Homo sapiens: one gene and its partners. The protein of the gene in region 7 purifies or fractionates together with the protein of the main gene of each other region. This does not show direct contact. Each region holds a gene or a part of one and is shown on either strand. Other genes may lie near its edges.

Region 1 (3,500 bases), on a different chromosome or scaffold from region 7:
GTGCTCTGTGCAGTATCTGGAACATACGTGCTCAGTAAACAATAGCTATTGTAATTATTTACAATTCTTTCATTTTGTTAGACCTAACACTTATTATACATTGCATAAATTTTGAGAAGGGTAAGAAAATGGGTCAATGTCATTAATGATGCTGATATATTAAATAAAACAAGTATTTTTCATAATCTCACCAAAAAGACATGAACAGATATGAGTAAGTTTAGCATCTACCCAATTTCTAAGTTTGCAGGACTGAATTCTTTGGAATTCAAATTCACAGATTAAAAAAAAAATCCTACTTTAATGAATAACAATAAACCCAGAAATAATAGCAGCTATTATTTAACTGAGGGTCTATTACATGTCAGAAACAATGCTAGGCTCTTCATATATTATCCTTTATTGTCAAGAGAACCTTTGTTTACCTGCATTCTATAGATGAGAAAATTAAAGCTCCGCAAGATGAAGTGCCTTGTGGAAGCAGCATCTGTTAAGTACCAAAGACAGAATCTATCCACGTCTGTCTGCTATTCAAGTCTATGCTCTAGACAAGGTATCCTATTCTCACAACTTTCACGCTTTCTTTTGTAGTTCACAAGTCTCACAATGTGCAGAGTTAATGCATGGATGAACATTCTCTACAAAAAGTTTCTTCCTTTTAAGAAAAGGAAGCTCGTTATGCTGCACTTTATCTTCTCTCACCTTCAGAGACTCCTTCCTACGATATTTATGTCAAAGACCCCGAAGTTTAAGCAAAATAAATGGCCCAACTTTACTTTTAAATATAGTAATTATACATAAACTATAAATTATAAGAATAAGGATAAAACTGTAATTAGAAGATCATCCCTGAGCCCATACTAATATTAGAAAACATCTCAGCTTCACATAGGAGCTCAAATCTGATTTGCTTTTAACCACTAGAATGTAAGATCTATAATTATGAAGACCCTGTTCTAATTCCAAACCTAGGCACATGGCAGGCACTTGGTAACTATTTGTTGAATGAATTGATCTGTTTTTTATCACCATAACTTTATGGTCAACTTATGGATTAGAAACCTGGTCGGGCATGGTGGCTCACGTCTCTAATCTCAGCACTTTGGGAGGCCGAGGTGGGCGGATCACTTGAGGTCAGGAGTTCAAGACCAGCCTGGGCAACATGGTGAAACCCCATCTCTACTAAGAATACAAAAATTAGCCAGGTGTGGTGGCGCACGTCTGTAATCCCAGCTACTCAAGAGGCTGAGGCAGGAGAATCCCTGGAACCTGGCAGGTGGAGTGGAGGTTGCAGTGAGCCGAGATCACGCCACTGCACTCCAGCCTGGGCAACAGACCGAGACTCCATCTCAAAAAAAAGAAGGAAAGAAAGGAAAGAAAGGAAGGAAAGAAAGGAGAGAAAGGAAAGAAAGGAAAGAAAGAAAGAAAGAAACCTACTGCTTTAGCCCAGCACGGGCTGCAACAGCCCTGCAATCCCAGCACTCTGGGAGGCTGAGGAGGGACAATCACTTGAGGCCAGGAGTTTGGGACCAGCTTGGACAACACAGGGATACCCTGTCTCTACAAAATATAAAAATTAGCTGGGCGTGATGGCATGTGCCTGTAGTTCCACCTACTTGGGAGCCTGAGGCGGGAAGACTGCTTGAGCCCAGGAGTTCGAGGCTGCAGTGAGCTATGATCACACCACTCCAGGCTGGGAGACAGAGCAAGATCCTGACTCCAAAAGAAGAGAAGAGGAAGAGGAGGAGGAAGAGAAGAGAAGCGAAGCGAAGCGAAGAGAAGCGAGAAACCTATCGCTTTAGTAATGCTGTTTCCCCACCTCTCAAACTGTTAACACCTGAGGGTAAATGGTGTCTACTAAGCTGAACCACCATGAATCTTACCTGTAATTCGGATCTGAGCTGATGTATCTGGCCCATCAGCTTCTGTATTTCCTCCCTCTGCATCTCTTTCTCATGCCGAAGTTCTTCCAGCTCCATGCTACTGGCAGTGCTGCTATCTAGGCCTTCAAAACCAGAGCCTTCTTTCAAGCTGTTAATCAATTTTTCCTTAGACTATTATAAAAGAAGAAATATGTTTAAGCAAAGCAGAGATTAGTTTGTATATTGAATATCATCTACTATACAGAAAATAACCCACTAAAAAAAATTCCATTATCTCCATCAAAGAAAGTCCACAGATTTTCTTAAATCCCTAAGGATAAAAAACACAACAGAGCCTTGCTGTATAATGTCCTTGGACTTTAGCCCCACAATCATGGTAAAGTTGAAAGCTTGTTATGAATAAGATTTTTTTTTTCCAGCTGGGTGCGGTGGCTCACGCCTGTAATCCCAGCACTTTGGGAGGCTGAGGCGGGCGGATCACGAGGTCAGGAGGTCGAGACCATCCTGGCTAATATGGTGAAACCCCGTCTCTACTAAAAATACAAAAAAAATTAGCCAGGCATGGTGGCAGGTGCCTGTAGTCCCAGCTACTAGGGAGGCTGAGGCAGAAGAATGGCGTGAACCCGGGAGGCGGAGCTTGCAGTGAGCCGAGATCGCGCCACCGCACTCCAGCCTGGGTGACAGAGCCAGACTCCGTCTAAAAAAAAAAAAAAAAAAAAAAAGATTAAAAAAAATTTGTGTTTATTTATTTGAGATACGGTCTTGCTATGTTGCCCAGGCCGGTCTTGAACTCCTGGCCTCCAGGAATTCTCCTGCCTCAGCCTCCCAAAGTGCTGGGATTGCAGGAGTGAGCCATCACACCTGGCCAAACAAGACTTTTCTCACATTTTCTTCTCATAGTTTTTATTTTCCAACACATTCTACCCAACAAGTAAATGGTGCTAAGTGTTCTGCGCAATAAAGATAATGTCTCTCTCTATAGATAGTACCCTCTGCCTTACAAACTAAAAGAGAAGTTACAAGTATCCAGCAGAAGGCAATCAACACAAGTAGAGAAAAGGATATGGTCAGATTACTTGCAGAGTTCTGAGAGGAAAAACCACTTCTGGGTAAGAGGAGACTTTAAGAGAGCATAAATGTTGGCCTTGAAATATGGGTAGACTTTTTTAAAGTGCAGAGAAAAACAGAGAGCAAAGCATAAAAATGCAAAAGCACACAAAGTCTGTAAGAAAATAATGTGAGATGCAGCTCAGATAGTATTTTAGCACCAATTTGGAGGGGCTCCTGATCTCAGGCTAAAATGTTTTAATATTATATGGCAGGCTAAAACAAATTACCAAAAAGTAGAGAGAGGAGTGACATGACTAGAGATGCATTTTAGGAGGCTAACCTGGCAGTGCTATGAAGAAGGTGCTCACAAATGATGGTCCGTGGGCCTGTTTTTGTACAGCCTGCAAGCTAAATTTTTTTTTTACATTTTAAAAGGATCATAAATAATAAAGACAAAGAATATGTGATGGAGACTACAGGTAGCCAACATAGCCTACAATATTTACTATTTGACCCTCTCAATGTTTTCTGACCCCTGAGATAAAAGATGAGTTTGAAGAAGAGATT
Region 2 (3,500 bases), on a different chromosome or scaffold from region 7:
CCAGCCTGGGCAACAGAGCGAGACTCCGTCTCAAAAAAAAAAGAAGAAATTTCTGGAGTAATGTCTGTTTTTCATAAAGTATTACACACAGTTTAGTAATTCATACCAGAAACAAAAATACAAGCTGGGTGCAGTGGCTCACGCCTGTAATCCCAGCAGTTTGGGAGGCCAAGGTGGGTGGATCACCTGAGGTCCGGAGTTCGAGACCAGCCTGGCCAACATGGGGAAACCCCCTCTTTACTAAAAATACAAAAATTAACTGGGGCATGGTGGCGGGCGCCTGTAATCCCAGCTACTTGGGAGGCCGAGGCAGGAGAATCGCTTGAACCCGGGAGGCGGAGGTTGCAGTGAGCTGAGATTGTGCCACTGCACTCCAGCCTGGGTGACAAGAGCGAGACTCTGTCTCAAAAAAAAAAAAAAGGAAAAGAAAAAGAAATAAAAATACAGACATAGTTTTTATAAACAATATGAGAGAATGGTTTGTATATTACCTGATGTCTACACATCACATTTGATTATTCCTTTCCTCACAAAATCACAAAACATTAGGAACAGACAGGATCTTAGAAATAATTCACTCCAAATCCTCATGTGCCAGATGAGACACTAAGGCCCAGAGACATGAAGTATCTTTTCTCTATGTAACTAGATAGTGGCAGAGCCAGGCCTAAGAATCCAGTTCTTCCTCTTTCCCAGTCCACTATTCTTTCAAAAAGTGTGGTAGATATTATACCTCCCAATTTATAGACTGGGAAACTCATTTTGAAGTAAGGGGATTCCCTAGTAGTGCAAGAGGACAGAACTGAGAAGAGACCACAATTTTTATAAAGATTAATTAGATCTATGATTGCAAGAAAATTTTTTTTTTTTTGAGACAGAGTCTCACTCTGTCACCCAGGCTGGAGTGCAGTGGCGCGATCTCGGCTCACTGCAACCTCCGCCTCCCAGGTTCAAGTGATTTTCCTGCCTCAGCTCCTGAGTAGCTGGGATTACAGGTGCCCACCACCACACCCAGCTAATTTTTGTATTTTTAGTAGAGACAGGGTTTCACTGTGTTGGCCAGGCTGGTCTCCAACCCCTGACCTCATGATCTGCCCGCCTTGGCCTCCCAAAGTGCTGGGATTACAAGCGTGAGCCACCGCACCCAGCCAGAAAACATTTTTAATATCAGTAATATTTACCTAGTTTATAGATGAATCTTAAAAAAAAAAAGGTGAAAATTAAAACTTACCTCATAATACCACTGTGATATTGGCAAACTGTGAGTGATAGCAAGCCAGTTTCGGTGTACTTCAAAATCTGTGGAATGGCTACTCAAAACAATTAGATAAATAAAATGAGATTTTGCAATATTTATCAATTTCTAATTCCCATAGTTATGCTTTTAAATGGACTGACATTCCCTAAGCTGTCACAGCTCACTGTCCTATAGAGACACAAATAGACATTACATAATCCTGTAAAACCTCATTTATCTGGAGGTCAGATCTTCTAGAAAGTTGTTGAGCAATCTACAAGTCAGTGAAAAGGGTCTCAGAACTACCTAAAGGGCTGACAAGAAGCCCAGACTTTCTCTTTTTCTTTTCTTTTTTTTTTTTTTTGAGGCGGAGTCTCCTTCTGTCACCCAGGCTGGAGTGTAGTGGACCCATCTCAGCTCACTGCAACTGCCGCCCCCCGGGTTCACGCGAGTCTCCTGTCTCAGCCTCCCGAGCAGCTGAGACTACAGGCATGTACCACCAATCCTGGCTAATTTTTAGTAGAGGTGGGGTTTCGCCATGTTGGCCAGGCTGGTCTCAAACTCCTGACCTCAGGTGATCCACCTGCCTCAGTCTCCCAAAGTGCTGGGATTACAGGCGTGAGCCACCACGCCCGGCCTAGCCCAAACTTTTTCTTACAGGCGGCCCTCAGGCCTTTGCTCAGAAGTGACTTCCTCTTGCTCACAAACAATTCTAACAAAATTCATTACCTGAAAAAGGCCTCATATACCAAGACATAAGGATGAGGAGTTCATCTGACAGAGAAGGTGGGAAAAGATCCTTGCTTTGCCTTTCCCATGTCTCCAAATTCTCCCTCTTCCCATCACTATACATATCTAAGGATCACCTATCTTTAGAAAAAATCTTTTCCTGTTTGTCCACTGCTGTACCTCCCCTCCACATTTAGAACAGTACCTGACGCATGGACAAGCTCAATACATTCTTGCTGAATATCCACTCACCAAAGTGAACAATGAGTTCCACAGCAAAGCCCAATTTACCCTTTCCAACATTTTACACAACCTTTCCACAATGACAACTTTCTCCTACCTCCAGCCAACCCTTCTTTCTCAGTCATGGCTTTCCCTTCCTATATTCATCAGGGACATGTTGATATTCCCCTAGGTTCAGTTCTTGGTCCCCTTTTTACGCAACTTATTCTGCTCTGGACAATCTTATGCAAACTTTCTGGTTCCACTGTCAATTGTATAATGATGACTCCCAAATTACTTTTTTTTTTTTTTTTGGAGACGGAGTCTCGCTCTGTTGCCAGGCTGGAGTGCAGTAGTGCGATCTTGGCTCACTGCAAACTCCGTCTCCCAGGTTCAAACGACTCCCCTGCCCCAGCCACCCAAGTAGCTGGGACTACAGGTGCGCGGCACCACGCCTGGCTAATTTTTTTTTTTGTATTTTAGTAGAGATGGGGTTTTACTGTGTTGGCCAGGATGGTCTTGATCTCCTGACCTCGTGATCAGCCTGCCTCGGCCTCCCAAAGTGCTGGGATTACAGGCATGAGCCACCATGCCTGGCCTACTCCCAAATTTCAATATGCAACATTGGCTTCTTTACTAAGTTGTGGAGACAGACACCTCCAACTTCCTGTTAACAATCTCACTTGAATTTCCTACAGATATTTCAAAATCTCCACTCAGAACTGAATTGATGACCCATCCATCCCAAGTCTAAGTACGTATACCCAACAGAAATGCATAGTATGCTCACTAAAAGACACGTACTGTAAGAATGTGCAAAGTGGGGCCGGGCGCGGTGGCTCACACCTGTAATTCCAGCACTTTGGGAGGCTGAGGCAGGCGGATCACGAGGTCAGGAGATCAAGACCATCCTGGCTAACATGGTGAAACCCCATCTCTAGTAAAAATATAAAAAATTAGCTGGGTGTGGTGGTGGGCGCCTGTAGTCCCAGCTACTCAGGAGGTTGAGGCAGGAGAATGGCATGAACCCAGGAGGCGGAGCTTGCAGTGAGCTGAGATCGCGCCACTGCACTCCAGCCTGGGCGACAGAGCAAGACTCCGTCTCAAAAAAAAAAAAAAAATGTGCAAAGTAAAACTATTTGCAACAGGTAAAAAGTGGAGATAAATGTCCACAAACAGCAGAATAGCTAAATAAATTGTGGTGTTTTCACACAATGGAATACTGTAGAGCAGCAGTTCTCAAAGTGTGATTCAGGGACTCACAGGGAGACCCTTTCAAGGAGTTTGAAATATGTACTATTTTCATAATAAT
Region 3 (2,334 bases), on a different chromosome or scaffold from region 7:
ATCTTATCCCGAGGGACCAACAGCAGGCATACCTTTGCCAGGCCTTCTTGCAGAAAGACACAGAGCCGTAAAGGCAAAAATAAAATTGCAATAAAGTATATGGTATTGGGGGCAGGGAGAACCAGAAACCCTCAAAGAGAACCAATTTGTAGCACGTTCTTTTTTAAGGCTCTACCCCTGTAGAAGTAAGAAACTAGCCTGCCTTTTTAGCCATATGAGAGTTTCCTCCAGAGCCATCTTCCAAAGTGGCAGACTTGGCCAAGTTGCCCAATGCCAAATAAGTGAGTTGGAAGTTCGTTTGCTTCAAACACACTGCACTTAGAAACCAGACTTGAAATAATCGAAGCCCCACAGAAAAGCTTCATGAAACGAAGTGTTACTTTCCTAGAGAATAAGAAAGTCACAAGATTGAGGAGTCTGTTCTAAAGTTCTTTGCTCCTTGATGTCGAAGTTAACACAAACACAATCTTAGCTTAACGAAACTAAGTAATTTTTGTTTATGATTATAGAACTGCAGGATTCACAAGTAGTATTAGAGACATTCCACACTGCACACTCCAGTCATATCTCTTAACAAAATGACATAAATTGACAATGTTCACTAACAGTATTTGCTGTTACACTGAAAAGGCACATCAATGTTGTCATGCTTAGAAAAATACACAACACTGCACACTGGATGATATAGTTAGCACATACATTTTTAGATGTTCCATTTTTCTTTTCTGCCTGATCACTATTATTTTTACTTCTTAATATATGATTCAAGACATAATTTCATTCTTCATTTTCATTTAAAATTTGTCTTCACATTGATGTGAACAACTTTCAGGAGTCTAAAAAATAGTAGTTTCAGACAACCTAAAATAAATATATTCCTAGAAAACACTTGGATGACCTGCAAACAGATCAAAGATATAGTCAGATATTAAAGTCAGAGCAGCTGTTTTCAGCTTCTTGTTTCCTTTTCTAAAACTTGAAGTAGATGGCGATTAACCTTATCATGTTTAAACAACCTTGACAGTATAAGGTACATGTACCCTCAATTTTCTTCATCCAGTAAGACAAGTATGCATCTTAAAGGGAAAGCTTTTAGTTCATAACAATATGTTTGGTTGCTTTTCTCTGCTTTCGGAACATTTACTGTTTTTCCTTTATTGGCTTTAGTGTTTGCTGCCAACCAGATAACATGTTAACATATAATTTACAACTCTCTCTAGGTAGGTGATTACATAGAAAACTAATGCCAGCTAAGATTTATGGATTCAAAAGATAACTGACACAAGTTCTTGTCCTCTACACTTGAGAGAACTAGCTGTTTAACGCATAAATATATTGATAGTAACTACAAGTTAAATAACATTCAGTGTCACTATATAACATGCTGTCTTACTTGATTCTGTTTTTCAGACTTCATTCTAGTTTCTCTTTGTTGGAAGAGTCTCAGAGATAATGTGTGCTTTAATTTTAAACACTCATTACCAATATGATTTTTGCCCAAATGTTTGTTAATGTAAGTTAAAAAATTATATTTGGTTTGGATTCAAATATTTATAGATTTACACAATACCTATTTCATCAAAATATATTGTATGATATTTAATAAAATTAAATACATAAAATAAAGTTTCAACACTATTTATACAAACCCCTAGAAAAGCTTCTTTTTCTTTATAAGGCTGTTGGCAATCGACCATAACCATGGAAAGGAAATAATAACCTTTGGTTTTACTCTTTCACCAGGGATGGATGGTATGACTAAGACAGTTCTGGATGAGTTGTGTCACTGGAAACACTGTTTTATACAATTAAACACTTTGATGATTTTTGAGGATCTCATCTCAGTCACTTTCAGATTCTTCATCTTCACCTATCGGATATGACTGGATATTATTCTGAGTGTACATTTTTGTTTTAATAGGGCAGTTGTGATCCATGAGAATAGCCTAAAAGAGAGCAAAGTGCAAGTATATTAACTTCTTGTTTCATAAAGATAAGATGGTTTTAACCTACTGTTTTTAAGGATTATTAGTTTGAAAACTATGTAGTATTACTTGCTATTAACCAGTCATTTGGAGCAATCGCCAGACGCCTGACCTAAAAGACCTGTAGTTCTACACTCTAAAAATTCCAGGCAATTGGAGACAGAAGTGGTCTCTGCAGTATTTTCATTATACCTGTCAGGGGCCATAAGTCCACTCTGGGAACTTATACTCTATGAAGCAAGGGACAGGCAGGTTAGGTTTGTTATACTTAGAATCTTGGAATTGGGGTATGGGGATCCTGGAGGTCACCCAGTCCAACTTCTGTTTACAGACGTCATTGTAGCAACAC
Region 4 (3,500 bases), on a different chromosome or scaffold from region 7:
CAATCAGTTGGGGGGGGGTCCCGAAGAGAGGTGGCCTGACACCAGACAGCAGAGACAGGGCCAGGGCGGGTGGGCATGTCTTCCTGGGCAGGAGCCTGGCATCGGGAGTGCCATCTGAACCGCAGAGCACAAGAGGCCTGGGCAGCGGCCTGAGAGCAGCTCCACCCTCTGGCCTCAGTTCCCTTCTCTGAGGGAATGGGACAAGGTCACGGCCCAGCTTTGACACCCATGAAGCCTAAACATGGAGTATGGAAGCATGACTTTGCACCAGCCACTTTCCACCATTGAGATCAACTGCCTCCAACTCGTGCAGAAGTTGGGGTGGGGGTGCAAAGGCCCAGCCCCTTCCTTGGGGCTCAGCGGGGAAAGGAGTGGGGACTGTCAGACCCACTCTGGCCTTCCTCATGGCTCAAGTCCAGATGGCAGGAACCAGACAGAAAAAAGCGCTGGAGAGCTGGAGCTACCCCACCCAGCACTTATCTCCGAGCCCTAGAGATGCTTGCTCACTGCAGGGGAAATGGTGACATCCTGGGACCAGGCTTCCTCCTGGCCCGCAGTCACATCCGCCGCTCTCTCTCTAAGACCCCCAGGCCCGCCTCCGCACCCAGCCCACAGGCGGAACACTGCCACCTGCCCAGCCAGATCCTGGCCTCACTGTGGCCAACCCCAGAGAAGGGCCTTCAGCCCCAGCCCAGCTGGGAGATGCCAAAGAGACCTGGGGAGAGGGACTGGGGCTTAGGGTGGGACAGACTCTATTTCCTCCTCCTTTAGGGTGGGGCGGGGGAAATCCTGAAAAAAAGTGAAGTGCAGAGTTCAGATCACCCCCAGGTCCCATGGGTTGAGGCCTCTGTACCCTCCCCTGCCCAGGCTCAGGGCCTCCCCCACTGCAGATAGCTTTGGAGACAGCATAACCCAGCTGGCAGCAGCGGACCTCAGACACATCCAACGAAACACAGACTCAGACACCATTTACCACTGCTGCCCAGAGAATCTGGTTTCCCCACAAAGGGTGAGGCCAGGCACTCCCAACCAAGCCTGTTCCGCACAGCTGGGTAAGCAAGGCCACCCCCAGGGAGGTCCCCAACAGCTCTACCAGCCAGTCCAGGCAGGGTACAAGGGTCCCCCCGCCATGCGGACTGTACAAGCCACACTCCTCCACGCGGGCCCAGCCCACTGCCCCTCCCAACTCCCCCAGGTGCAGTTCCCTCTCTCCACCTGGTGCCACCAATCTCCCTGCACTCCCCACCCCCACACAAGTGGGTTTCTAGAAGCTCTGAGTCTTGCTAATGAAGGGTGCAGTCCCCACAAGCCCTGGGCTCTATGGGCTTTATGGGGCAGGGCAGGGAGAGCGTGACAGGTGCAGCCCAGAGGGAAACAGGCAGAGGCTTGATGCAAGGGCTGAGCCTGCGTGTGGCCAGAAATGGGGACACAGGGGTGGGACGGGACAGGCCCTTGGATAAGAAGTAAGCAGCCCCCTCCCCTCCAGACAGGAAAGAGGGAGACCATTATTATCCACTGGATATGACCAGGAAGTTTAGGGGGCTCAAGCCATCTGAAGACAGGATGTGGGGAAACCACCCCCTGGGCGGGAAGCTGCTTCCAGCCTGGCTCCGGAGCCGCGGGTGGGCGAGGCGTCACCTGGTGTCCCTGGGAGTGGGCAGTCAGGACAGAAGGAGGGCGGTGGGAGGCTTGGGGCCACGTCTTCGCGGCTGAATCACAGGATGCTAGGGTGAGGGCTGGGGACAAGGAAACTGCTTCTCTCCCCAGCTCCCTTGCCACAGAAACTGAAACTCATTTTCCCTGCCTGTGGCCCTGCTGGGAACCAGGGCATTTTTAGAAAGCTGCAAAGAGGAAGCTGAGCCTCACCCACTGTGCAATCCCCAGCAAAACCCGTGGTACTGCTGACCCCGGGGTTTCTCCAGCCCCAGAGGCCCGGAAGGACAGCTCATGGCACAGCTGTTCTTACACCTCCCCATGCATCCCCAAGCTGGGCCTCACGTAGCCAGTGACGCTGCCCTGGCAAGAGGTAGAAGGGGCAAGAGTAAAGGGCAGGAAAGTGGCAAGAAGGCTGGCTGGGGGCCTGGGGGCAGAATTTGGGGAGAGTCATGAGAGGCAAAACAGAAGGGCAGGGTTGGCATGAGCTGCGGCGTGAGCTCCACCGGCAGAGTTAGCAGAGGGGAGAGGGGGCTGGGGACTCTGAGGGTGGGACACCCAGCTGTCTGTCTCCAGGAGCCAAACAGGAGCCACTCTCCCTCCCTCTCAGCACCACCTCCCCAGAGGCCGGAGCTGGTGGCAAGTGGGCGCAGACACGATCTCAACCCACTCCGCCGGTACACGCTTCAGCCCACAGCTGCTGATGGAGAGAAACAAAACGGCCTGTGGGTTCACACAGCTCCCCAGACATCCCACGAACAGCGGGTCCTGGCCCAGAGAGCTGTTTCTTTCTCCTCCTCGCCCCTCCAGGGCTTGCCTCGAACTCAGTTCAGAAGATCAAGAACCCCCAGGGGCAGCTTCAGGGGACTGACCATCCCCTGACTTCTCTGGGCTTTTTCCTATCCGGCCCCAGGCTCTGGGCTCCCCTTAACCCGGTTAGAGTGGCTGGGGCGTCATAAGCCAACCACAGACACGGGAAGCGGGTGCTGTGCTCCAGGGAGCCGCCAAGATCAGGGGTGTGAGGTGTGAACCTGTGTGTGTGTGTTGCGGGGGGCTGGGGGGTGACATGTCATGTTCTTAGGGTGGTGCAGCCCCTGACGCCCCCTCTGCACCAACCATCTGGGCTTTCTCAGGACCAGTTGCCAGCAGGGATGGCAGAGATACAAATGCCCCCTCCTCGGCTGGGGTTCCTGGTCCAGGAAGCAGGCTGAGCTGGGGGTGCTGGAGTCCTGCATCCCCGAAGCCCAATGTGCAGCAGCTGCTGGCAAGACACAGGGGTGGGCACCAAAGGAGGTGGCAGTGCAGCCAGGCCTCGAGCTGGACACAGCGCTGGGCCCCACCCACCACAGTGCCCTCCCCTGGAAATTTCTGGATTTCAAAAGCTGCTGGTGGAGGCTGGGCACAGTGGCTCACACCTGTAATCCCAGCACTTTGGGAGGCTGAGGTGGGCAGATCACCTGAGGTCAGGAGTTCTAGACTAGCCTGGCCAACATGGTGAAACCCCATCTCTACTAAAAATACAAAAATTAGCCAGGCATGGTGGCGGGTGCCTGTAATCCCAGCTACTGAGGAGGCTGAGGCAGAAGAATCGCTTGAACCTGGGAGGCGGAGGTTGAAGTGAGCCGAGATCACGCCACTGCACTCCAGCCTGGGCGACAGAGCAAGACTCCATCTCAAAAAACACACAGACAAAATAAAACAAAGCTGCTGATGGAGGCAGGCAAGTGGCAGCAGCTGGGCGGGGATGCAGGTGCCTTCCACATCCCAGGGAAGAGGCAGCAGCTCCCGAGCCTGGGGCTGGACTGCAGGCTTTGGGGCAATGAAGGGAAGGGGGCACGCACAGCAGC
Region 5 (3,500 bases), on a different chromosome or scaffold from region 7:
GAGGGTTTTTGGGTTGGGGACAGAGGGGAGTGACTGCTAACAGGTACAGGGTTTTTCTATGGAGTGATGAGAATGTCCTAAAATTGATTCTGGTGATGGTTGTACAACCTGGTGAATATACTAAAAATATATTAAATTGTACACTTTTTTTCTTATTTCTTCTAAAAAAAAAAACAGGATACATGTGCAGAACGTGCAGGCTTGTTACACAGGTATATATGTGCCATGGTGGTTTGCTGCACCTACCGACCTGTCCTCTAAGTTCCCTCCCCTCGGCCCCCACCCCCCGACAGGCCCCGGTGTGCGTTGTTACCCTCCCTCTGCCCATGTGTTCTCAATGTTCAGCTCCCACTTATGAGTGAGCACATGCGGTGTTTGGTTTTCTGTTCTTGTGTTAGTTTGCTGAGGATGATGGCTTCCAGCTTCATCCATGTCCCCGCAAAGGACATGATCTCATTCTTTTTTATGGCTGCAAAACTGCACACTTTAAATGGGTGAATTGTGTAGTATGTCAATGATGTCTCAATAAAGCTGTTATTAAAAAGATAATTAAAAAATATCACATTGTATACTGTAAATATATATAATTTTTTTTGAGACAGGGTCTCGCTCTGTCCCCCAGGCTGAAATACAATGGCATCACAGGCTTACAGAGCAACCTGCTGTTATTGGCACACTTGGTCATCAATGTAAGTAGCCATTTTAAAACTGCCAGTTTCTGGATTATTCCAACAAAAACACTCCCAGAAAATCTCCAAACTATTTATTGGGTGTGCCCTCCGTACCTGGGACTGGCTAAGCCGTGTATATACTTTGTCATTGAATCATTGCAACACCGTGAGCGAGAGAAATGCTGACCCCACGTTCAGCCACATCTGCCCAAGGTCGCCAGCTATGAGGCGAGCAGAGCTAGAGTGGGAAGCCAGGTCTGTGGCTCTGAAGTACTCAGCACGCCTGCCTCCCCAAGGGCCGCCTCGACGAGCCCAGCCCCTCCTCCTTCTCCAAGAACCCCCACCAAAACCAGAGGCACGCCCAGAGTACCTTGGACTGTACGAATGTCCGTAAAATCGGCACCAGTGCCTCATCCTCCAGGTGGTCTGCACACTGGATGGACACATTCAGAATGTGGATGGGCTCTTCTCTGAGGCTCTGAGAGGGAGAAGCAAGGGGTAGGGCTGGAAAGCCTGGGGGCCACGGCCCACCTGCTCCCCAGGTTGCTCCCTGGGCTTAGACGCTTACCTTGCAGTCATCCTCGGAGTATAGGGAGGTGCGGGCCTCGCTGAAGAGGGGGGTGTCTTTGGGCACGTTGGCGAAGCAAGAGATGACTTCATCAAAATTTCTGGGGGTGCGGGTAGAGAGGGAGGGCTGAGGGGCTGCTGACCCATGGGGATGAGGTCAAGCTTCCAAGCCAGGCAGCAGGGAACGCCAGACCCTCCCAATTTCCCAGCCAACACCCTTTGATCTTATCCAACTCTACAGAGCTCAGGAGGTTCCCTGTCTACTTTGTCCAGAGCACCCGTGATGGGGTCCTTCCCAAAAGGGAAGAATGAACCTAAGTGATCTGTGATCAGGAATACAGGGAAGGATTCCAGCGCTTTCAGGCATCAGCTGGGCTTGAGATCAACTCTTGGCTCCCATTTTTACTGGCTGGGAGATCCTAGAAACCTCACCTCACCCCGAGTCAAAGAAAGGTAATAAGAGTAATCCCTATGCCTCATGAGGCTGTTGTGAAAATTCCACAAGATACTCCAAGCACAAAGCAGAACACACAGTGAAAGGCTGAAAAAAGACTATAACAGTAACTATTGAGAGCTAACATTTAGTCACTATATTATCTGCATACTAATTATACTTTAAATATGTTATTTCACATATGTTATCTCATTTAATTCTCATGGCGCACCTATGAAGTGAGTCCTTTATTATTCCCATTTTACAGATAAGAAAACGAAGGTATGGAGAGGTAAAAATATTTTGCTCAGTCTCTTAGTTAGAAAGCACATAGCCAGAATTCAAACCAGGCAAGCTGACACGCAGGCTCACACTCTTGGCTACGATGCTCTTATTATTCTGTTGTTATTGATGTGCTGTGCCAGGCAAGCTGACATGTAGGCTCATACTCTTGGCTACAATGCTATTATTATTCTGTTGTTATTGACATGCTGTGCCACGTGTCTGGGTCTCTCCCACCCCATCTGTCCAGTGAATTGGGGGGGGATTCAAGGGAAGTCTGCCCAGCCCCCATGCTCAGGGTGTTGGAGACCGGGCCATGCTGGGTACCTGGTGAAGTCCTCGAATCTCCTGAAGGCTACCATGGCTCCCATGCGCTGGCACAGTGGGGAGAAGCCGCTGTCCATGAAGAGCTCTGTGCTGTGCCTCAGCAGGTCAGGGTTGGTGATGCTGATGGGCACGGTCATCCTGTAAGGTGATGGCAAGTCGGGGATGAGGCAGCTGCTTGCAGACCCAACTCTACGAGCTGCTCCTACTCCTGAAGCTTCAGTGAGCTGGACCAGATTTAGAGCTCTTCCAAATGGGGGCTTAAAATGGGCAGGGGATGAGACAATGGCTGGGGCCGGGGCCTGAGGAGGGTCTCATCTGATCCCTCAGGACCTGGTGAAGAGTAAGAGCTCAACAAGTGTAGGAATCAATGATTCATGCATGAGAGTCCAGTCTCAACACAGTCCCGAGGGGAGCCCCAAGTGCTGAACTTGACCACAGAGAAGAAACACTCCCAGCATCAATTTCTCCTGGAGAAATCCACCAGCCCCAGGCAGCTGGTGAGGCAGTCAGGCTTGGTCCTGACGGACACTCCAGTCCTCTGCTCCCTGTAATCCCTCCATCAAACTTGCCCTTGGGACAAAGTCAGCAGCCTTCTGGAGTTTAGACAACGATGCTCCCAGAACTGGCTGCTCACCAGCAGCAAATCTCAATGGGCCACCTGAGGTTGTTAGAATTGGGCCTTGGAATCAGATACGGGAGGGGTAATGAAATGGTGTGCAGGAAGTCAGCACAGCAGGCCCCACACTGCTCTTCTGAGAAAGGAGACCTGCTTGCTTGCAAGGACAGCCCTTGGCTGGCCTCTGGGAACTTGGACTTGGGGAAGGTTCCTATCGTTCCCTGAAGGTGACAAGGGGGGCTCACTGTGCCTCAACTGTTTGCACAAACAGTGTGGTTTATGCTGAACACCTGCTTTCTTCTGCAAGCCTGAGATTTCGATGCAGAGCAGAGGGTGATGTGACCAGCCACCAATCCCTGGTGCGGGGCTGGAAGACAACCCTTCACTTGTGTTGTCACAACTCCTTGCTGGGGGAATGAAGTGCACCCTGCGTGAATCCACTGGGAGAGGACCCTGGCAGCACACCTGCTTTCCTCTGGACTTCACCCTGATGCCTTCTGCCTTGGCTAACTGCTTTGTATCCTTGCCCCCTAATAAGTCAGAGCTATAAGCATGACTATGTCCCGAGACCTGTGAGTTCTCCTAGGCGATGATCGAACCTGGG
Region 6 (3,500 bases), on a different chromosome or scaffold from region 7:
CTCTGACCTTGCAATAAATAGTCATAAAACGTTATTTTTATTTTATTACTATTATTTTTAGAGACAAGGTCTCGCTCTGTTCCCCGAGCTGGAGTGCAGTGGGAGTCACAGCTCACTAGCCTCAAGCAATTCTCCAGCCTCAGCCTCCCAAAGTAGTGGGATTTCAGGCATGAATCACCACACCTGGCCTTGAAACATTATTTTTAAAGCCTAAATTCCAGTTGGTATGGTACCAAAATTTAGTTTAACTTCAAAATTCACAGTACTGCCGAGAAATGGGCGGGTCCTGAGGTTCCAGAGAAGTGGGGAGTGAATTCATTCCTGGTGGTTTTATTCTGGCAGCATGCATGGGAAATCACATGAGTTAGAGGGCTGTGGCCTGCTATCAACACTTCAAGCTGTTGTACTTTTACTTCAAGATGAAACTTTTAAAATACATCTGTCATATAGATGTACAAATATATGTAGATGCAAACATATATACACACTTTTTGACAAAAGAATTGTGGTAATATACGTGAACCATTTTTGTAAATAGATTCTATTTGGTTAATAAAAATATTCCTTCCATCAACCTATCGAAGTCCAGACCAACTATGAAGATAGGATGCCCATCCAGAAGAACGGGAAGCATTTTCTTCCTCACCTTTGGAAAGTAAAACAAAAAAAAAAAGAAAAATAAAAGAAAAAAGAGAGTATTAAAATTTCTCAATGTAAAATCTATATTTTAGAATCACTCTACAATATAAGCAAATAATGTGTTTTTTACTGATTACATGCCTTTTTTTTGGGGGGGGGGGTTCTTTTTTTTTGAGACAGGGTCTTGCTCTGTCACCCAGGCTGGAGTGCAGTGGCGTGATGAGACTTCAATGCAGCCTTGATCTCCCAGGCTCAAGTGATTCTCCCACCTCAGCCTCCCAAGCAACTGGGACCACAAGGTGTGTGCCACCATGCCTGGGTAATTTTTTGTTTTTTTTGTGGAGATGCGGGTCTCACTGTTTTCCAGGCTGGTCTCAAATTCCTGGGCTCAAGTGATCCTCCCACTTCAGCCTCACATTGTTGGGATTACAGTCACGAGCCACTGTACCCATCCATATGTCATTCTTTAGACACACTACTTACTAAATTTCTCTTTTTAAAGGATATACTGAATTTCCGGTTGAGCCAACTTAACAGCTAATTTTCTATTTTAGCTTTAAAACATTGATAAGCAACATGAAGCAATCTAGAACTTAACCTTTAAATGGCTTTATTAAAGAAATCCAGCTATGAAAATCATGCAGAAATGATTATTTACAAACAATCCTACCAGCACATAAGAAATTCTTCTTCTATTCTGAAATACCATCTTCTCACAATATACTTTGATGTTATGAATCAATGTCTGTTCTCGAACATTATTTGTCTTTCTCCATTAAACAATACCAAAATAAAATTTCCAGCACAACTAAGTATTGTTGACGATAAGAGGATTTAAAAAAAAATTCTTTTAAAACAGAAGCTTATATACAACTTAGAATCTAAAACCAATAGATTTATGGTAAACCTTAAAACTGAACCAAAACAAACAAAAACCAAAGTTTTAATCATTTAAAAATCATGTTTATTGAGGTACAACTTACTTATAGTAAAACCTGCCCTTTTCAGCATATAGCACTGAGTCTTGACAAATGCACAGTTACGTACCACCACCGACCAAGGCCTGGCACATTTTCACCTCCTCAAAGTTCTCCCTGGCTGCTTCTCCCACTCCTTGGCAACCGCTAACCTGTTTTCTGTCCTTATAGTTCTGCTTTTTTCAGAGTGTCATATAAGTAGAATCACACTGTACATAGTATTTTGAGTCTGACCTCTGTCAACTGGCATAAGGCATTTGAGAATTATCCATGTTGCTGTACTGGCAGTGCATTCTTTTTTATTGCTGAGCAGTATTCAATTGCATGGCTGTACCAGTTTATTCATTTGCCAGTTGAAGGATAACTGAGATCTTCCTCGTTTTTAGCAATTTTAAAGAAAGTTTCTATGAATAATTGTGTACAGGTTTTTAATTAAATGTTTTGGAGATATAATTCATATACCACATAATTCACCTTTTTAAAGTGCATAAGTCACTGGTTTTTAATATATTCACAAGGTTTGTGCATAGGTTTTTGTGTGAATACTGGTTTTCATTCCTCTTGGATAAAGATTTAATTTGGTATTATCCTTCCAGACACCTTTCTGTGTTTTCATACGTATATATGTATGTCAGTTTGACCTTAGGCAGAGTAGCATTTTCAAAATTTTACATGGGGAAATTTTCTAGAGTTAAAGCCATTTTATTTTTCTGTTCTGTCTGGTTTTATCTGCGTGTTATTTACAATCTGCTGCGTAACAAATTACAAAGTTAGTACCTTAACACATATTTATTTCACAGTTTCTGTGGGTCAGGAGATCAGAAATGGTTCTATTTCAAGGACTCTCACAGGGCTGCAATCAAGATGTTGGCATGGCTGGGGTCTCATCTGAAGGCTGGACTGGAGAAGAATCTACTTCCAAACTTATGTGGTAGTTGGAAGAATTTAGTTCCTCAAGGCCGCTAAACTGATGGCCTGTGTTCCTTGCCTATGGGATGGTAGCTTGCTTCAACAAAGTGTGCAAGCAGAGAAGACAGAGAGTCCGCTAGCAAGATAGAAGCCACAATCTCTTGTAATCTATCATTTTTGCTGTATTCTACTGGTTAAAAATAACTCATTAGGTTAGCCTACTGGCTCTCAAGGGGAAGAGATTATACAAAGGCATGAATTTCTGGAGGAGGGAATGAGGGCAAAGAATTCTGAGAAGTCTGTCTTCCACAATCTGAAGAACTTCTAGAAAGTAGGAGGAAGCGATATTGCTTAGGGATGGACAACTTGGCACTGGTTATGTATTTCAAGTGAGGTAACCTTGTTCCCAAGAATAAAGAGAACCAGACGACTGTAAACATTTCCCTAAACTGAAATGCAGACTGTTGTATGTTCCCCTGAAATGAATGGTGTAAGCTGAATATAAGATTTTTGACAAAAATTTTGCTGTGTTCTCAGATCTGGCAGGCCCCTGCCCTTGTGCAAACAATGTTCCTGGCAGCTATTCATCTCCTTAGGTAAATAAGAATTGGAGAAAAGCTGTGCTAAGATAGGATGCATTTGCTCTTGCCTTGGAAGGTTGTTTTCTGATAAGGTTCTATATCCTCAGCAAATCAAATCAGGCACTTACAGTGTGAGTATGCATTCTCTGCCTGCCAGTCTGGAGATGATCAAAAAGCCTATAACAGGCTTGGCCTATTTTCCTATTGGGTTGCTGGGCTTTTTTTTCGTCTTTATTTACTTGTAGAGAGTTTTAGACCTCTGTGTATGTATGGTGTACAAGTGACAATATTCAGATCTGTAAACTGTAACACAGTCTGGGAGCAAAGAAGATATAGAAAAATGACTTTTACTTCCTGCTTGAGTAGTAAAATTGAGATTCAAATTTTGCATATA
Region 7 (3,932 bases):
CCTTCTCCGTAGTCCCCGCCCCACCTCCCAGGAAGTAGCTAGGTTCCATGTCTCTGTGCTCCAGTTTGTGGGCTCCTCCCAGGCCTGACTGTCACCAATCTCCTCCTCGTCCTCCTTTAAACAGAAGTCCTCAGGAAGAGGTCTGCTGGCCTCTGTGTGGGGAGAGATCAGGAATGTTCCAGTTTCAGAGACTTTGTCTCCACCTCCAGCAGACTCGCCTCCCGAGCCTTCACCTGGTTCTGAAGCCTCCATATCCTTGTCCGGCTTGCTATCTTGCAGCAGCTCGTGGATGGTCCATAGCTTCATGTTCAGAAGCTCCTGCTGGGCTCCAGCCAGAGTAGTCACACTGAAGAAATGTCCACTCAGTGGCTCCCAACCTATGTCCCCATTCCTCCCTCCTGCCACAAATTCCCCAAAAATTCACAGAATCATTGCTCTCCTCACCGCTCAAAAAGGGGGTCCAGCTGGGCCATCAGGTTGTTCAGGTGCTGCTCTGTCTGGGCCAGCTGTTGTGTCAACTGGGCCAGCTGTTGCTCTGGGGATAAGGGAAAAAAGGGGGCAGAAGTGGTTATGTATCTTCTGCTGTCCCCTAAACTCCCCCGACCCAGCACAGACTTCTGCTAAACCCACCTGACTGCAGTGGCTGCTGCTTGCTTGCCTCCTCGTGGAGAACCGCAGTTTCATCTTTCCCCTGTTGTGGAAGAAGGAAAGGGCAGTACTGAAGCAACAAGGTTCTGCTCCATCACCTCAGTCTCCAGAGCCAGCCAAGAGAGAGTGCAATTTGAGATGGAGACAGTGATTGGGTTTTTACCTCAGAGAATCACAATCCTAGTCTATCTAGCTCCTCACCCAGCATATGAAGCGACGTCCTATGTCCCACACATGGTCAGTTTGCTGAAACACCTCCAGGAATGAGCAACTCCCTCCGGTTTGAAAAAAGCTCTGGTGGCTGAGTGCTGTGGCTCACACCTGTAATCCCAGCACTTCGGGAAGCCAAGGTGGGTGGATCACCTGAGGTCAGGAGTTTGAGACCAGCCTGGCCAACACGGTGAAACCCTGTCTCTATTAAAAATACAAAAATTAGCCGGGCGTGGTGGCAGGTGCCTGTAATCCCAGTTACTTGAGAGGCTGAGGCAGGAGAATCGCTTGAACCTGGGAGCCAGAGGTTGCAGTGAGCCGAGATTGCGCCGCTGCACTCCAGCCTGGGTGACAGAGCGAGACTCCATCTCGAAAAAAACAAAAACTTTGGTTGTTAGACAGTTCATGCACAAAGCCAAAATTTGTCCTTTATGTATCTTCTTTCCATAGTGCTTACTGGAGCCTTCCAAAATAATGTCTCCTCAAGGTGACAGCCCCTCAGGAATTTGAAGGCAATGGTCACACCCTCACCCACTTTCCTGAGTTTTTTCTGGTTTATTAACGTCAGTCTTTACAGTCAGTGCTCATTGACGGTGGTTTTCTCTGGTTGTTTCCTGAACACGTAGTGCTCTTAAAGCAATGCCCTGAGGAGAATACAATTCTCCAGGGGCATTCTGATTGGCAGGTGAAGCACAGTGCCATGTTCCCAGCACTGATTTGGGAAGTGGCTTGTCACATCCCACAGTGAACTCAGTCAACTGGAATGCCTAACTCTCTTTCATAAGACCTCCTGCTACATTATGTTTCTCCCAGACTGTACTCAGGTCCAAGAACAGAATTTACTAGTCTATCCTTCTCAAAGTTCATCATTAAATTCAGTCATTCATCCTAGCCTGTCACATCTACCTGGGGTCATTATTAGCTATCTCTTCTAGTTTCATATATCTAAACTGGTTCCATCGGTTCTATTTTATAATGCAAGTACGTAATAGGGTCACGGCTAAAGACACAGCCCTGGAAGGTACTGTTTTTCAAAATGTACTGTCAACTTACATTTCAGGGCCTCCTCCCAAGGAGAACATGAGACCACTTCATATCTGGAACTCTAGAAACACTGGCTGCAGCAATCAACCTCCTGTGCCAAGGCTGGCCCCACTCTTGTAGCATGGACACTGCTAGCTGGGTTCAAATCCCAGCTCCAGCAGTTGCCAGCGCTGGGTGACCTCGAGCAAGTGACTACTCCTCACTGGATTGTAGGAGAACTAAATGTGATAGTCATTATTTACAGTTCACCACACGCTCTTCACATCCGTTACCTCCCTGGATCCTCAAAATAACCTCATAATATTGGAAGGCCAACGGACTACTGTCTTTATTTTACAGACAGGGAAGCTGTGTCTTGTTCTTGGTACCCTGGCACCCCCATGGGAGATTCGGGCTCAGGGGATCCCCACGCCCGGCGGTCCCGCACCTGCAGGGGCACCCCTACCCCCGGCCGCCCCGTACCTGCAAACACTTGTACAGCACAAAAGCCGCGACGGCCGCGGTGTACAGCGCCCCCAGAGGCAGCGACCCGGCCCGGGTCCGCTCGCGTTGATCCTTGAGCGGTGGTCGCCGCCGGGGTTCCGTGGCTCCAGAGCCGGGGTGGGCTGCGTTCCCTGCGGAGGGAGGATACAGGCGAGTCAGCCGAGCTGGGGCCTGGGACCCGTGCGCAGTCCCAGCCCTCCTCCAGCAGCCCTAGCTGGTACCTGGGTGTGCCCGGAGGTCGGGATTGGCGCGGTCTCCTAGGACCCCGGACAGCGCAGACACAAGCAGCAGCCCCACCACACCCAAGAGCGAAACTGCGCCCGCCATTGCCGGCCCACGGGTGGAGGGATCGGGCGGGCGGTGCCGAAGCGGTCCGGCATTGGCCGGCCGCCCCAACGCGCACGCGCACGCGAGCAGGCCGGCCGGCTCCGGGGAGGCCACGCCCACTCCCCGTAGGGCGGGGCCAGACCATATTTGCATAAGATAGTGTCATTCTAGCTTTCCTGTATTTGTTCATTTCGTGTCTATTAGCTATTCTGCTAGCCACAATGCCTCTGAAAGCCTATAGTCTTAGAAAGTTATGCCCGAAAACGGTTTTTTTAATCTCACGCCACCAACTTTCTCACCCTAATCATAAAACACAATTTCTTTAGGGCTATAAAATACTACTCTGTGAAGCTGAGGACGTGGTTCGTGCTGAAGGCCTGTATCCTAGGCTACACACTGAGGACTCTGTTCCTCCCCTTTCCGCCTAGGGGAAAGTCCCCGGACCTCGGGCAGAGAGTGCCACGTGCATACGCACGTAGACATTCCCCGCTTCCCACTCCAAAGTCCGCCAAGAAGCGTATCCCGCTGAGCGGCGTGGCGCGGGGGCGTCATCCGTCAGCTCCCTCTAGTTACGCAGGCAGTGCGTGTCCGCGCACCAACCACACGGGGCTCATTCTCAGCGCGGCTGTTTTTTGTTCCCGAGACCACGGCTCACTGCAGCCTCGACCTCCCCGGGCTCACGCGATGCCTCACCTCAGGCTCCCAAGTAGTTGGGACCGCAGGCGCACGCCATCATGCCTGGCTAATTTTTGTATTTTTTGTAGAGACGGATTTTCACCTGTTGCCCAGGCTGGTCTCGAACGCCTGGTGTCAAGCGATCAGTCCACCTCGCCCTCCCAAAGTGCTGGGATTACAGGCGTGACACCGCGCCCGGTCAACGCGGCTGCTTTTCATGCGCGGGCAGCTTTACGCTGTTCTTGGCCTTGCTATGAAGTCCTTGTGCTCATTACTCCAAATATGGAGCATTCCTGAAACAGCCTCCTCTTCTACCTCCCTCTCCCTTTGGCAAACGCCATAGTAGCCACCATTCACTGTGTAGCTGGTACACAACATATGGACTCTGCTTGGGCTAGAATCCTGCCTCCTGTACTCAAGAGCGGTGACCTTGTGAAACTTAGTTCTCTCTCCGTGCCTTCCTTTCCACTCTGAGGAATGAAGATAAGCACTTACTTCAAGAGCTATGATGATTAAATGGGATCACTCAAGTTAGAACCGTGCCT

Evidence for each region.
Region 1: the proteins of CCDC107 (region 7) and GOLGA5 purify together in Homo sapiens (affinity purification with mass spectrometry; 2 studies listed by BioGRID and IntAct, with this or other methods). This does not show direct contact.
Region 2: the proteins of CCDC107 (region 7) and ALG8 purify together in Homo sapiens (affinity purification with mass spectrometry; 2 studies listed by BioGRID and IntAct, with this or other methods). This does not show direct contact.
Region 3: the proteins of CCDC107 (region 7) and PDZD8 purify together in Homo sapiens (affinity purification with mass spectrometry; one large-scale study listed by BioGRID and IntAct). This does not show direct contact.
Region 4: the proteins of CCDC107 (region 7) and RHBDF2 purify together in Homo sapiens (affinity purification with mass spectrometry; one large-scale study listed by BioGRID and IntAct). This does not show direct contact.
Region 5: the proteins of CCDC107 (region 7) and ACACB purify together in Homo sapiens (affinity purification with mass spectrometry; one large-scale study listed by BioGRID and IntAct). This does not show direct contact.
Region 6: the proteins of CCDC107 (region 7) and GCC2 purify together in Homo sapiens (affinity purification with mass spectrometry; 2 studies listed by BioGRID and IntAct, with this or other methods). This does not show direct contact.

The regions. Positions count from the first base shown.
Region 1 is NC_000014.9:92,814,805-92,818,304, reverse strand, and holds part of GOLGA5 (golgin subfamily A member 5), read right to left. Parts: intron 2,055-3,500; coding exon 1,884-2,054; intron 1-1,883. UniProt on the Homo sapiens protein: Involved in maintaining Golgi structure. Stimulates the formation of Golgi stacks and ribbons. Involved in intra-Golgi retrograde transport.
Region 2 is NC_000011.10:78,126,127-78,129,626, forward strand, and holds part of ALG8 (dolichyl pyrophosphate Glc1Man9GlcNAc2 alpha-1,3-glucosyltransferase), read right to left. Parts: intron 1,314-3,500; coding exon of another isoform or gene 1,311-1,313; coding exon 1,232-1,310; intron 1-1,231.
Region 3 is NC_000010.11:117,276,774-117,279,107, reverse strand, and holds the end of PDZD8 (PDZ domain-containing protein 8), read left to right. Parts: 3' UTR 1-1,834; downstream 1,835-2,334. Other genes in the region: SLC18A2 (synaptic vesicular amine transporter), read right to left, coding at 1,842-1,946. UniProt on the Homo sapiens protein: Molecular tethering protein that connects endoplasmic reticulum and mitochondria membranes. PDZD8-dependent endoplasmic reticulum-mitochondria membrane tethering is essential for endoplasmic reticulum-mitochondria Ca(2+) transfer.
Region 4 is NC_000017.11:76,491,424-76,494,923, forward strand, and holds part of RHBDF2 (inactive rhomboid protein 2), read right to left. Parts: intron 1,732-3,500; exon of another isoform or gene 1,639-1,731; intron 1-1,638. UniProt on the Homo sapiens protein: Regulates ADAM17 protease, a sheddase of the epidermal growth factor (EGF) receptor ligands and TNF, thereby plays a role in sleep, cell survival, proliferation, migration and inflammation. Does not exhibit any protease activity on its own.
Region 5 is NC_000012.12:109,231,587-109,235,086, reverse strand, and holds part of ACACB (acetyl-CoA carboxylase 2), read right to left. Parts: intron 2,419-3,500; coding exon 2,281-2,418; intron 1,340-2,280; coding exon 1,240-1,339; intron 1,150-1,239; coding exon 1,042-1,149; intron 1-1,041. UniProt on the Homo sapiens protein: Mitochondrial enzyme that catalyzes the carboxylation of acetyl-CoA to malonyl-CoA and plays a central role in fatty acid metabolism.
Region 6 is NC_000002.12:108,504,706-108,508,205, reverse strand, and holds part of GCC2 (GRIP and coiled-coil domain-containing protein 2), read right to left. Parts: intron 680-3,500; exon of another isoform or gene 647-679; coding exon 576-646; 3' UTR 1-575. UniProt on the Homo sapiens protein: Golgin which probably tethers transport vesicles to the trans-Golgi network (TGN) and regulates vesicular transport between the endosomes and the Golgi.
Region 7 is NC_000009.12:35,657,160-35,661,091, reverse strand, and holds the start of CCDC107 (coiled-coil domain-containing protein 107 isoform A precursor), read right to left. Parts: upstream 2,801-3,932; 5' UTR 2,713-2,800; coding exon 2,607-2,712; intron 2,517-2,606; coding exon 2,365-2,516; intron 1,750-2,364; exon of another isoform or gene 692-1,749; coding exon 631-691; exon of another isoform or gene 536-630; coding exon 445-535; exon of another isoform or gene 347-444; coding exon 1-346.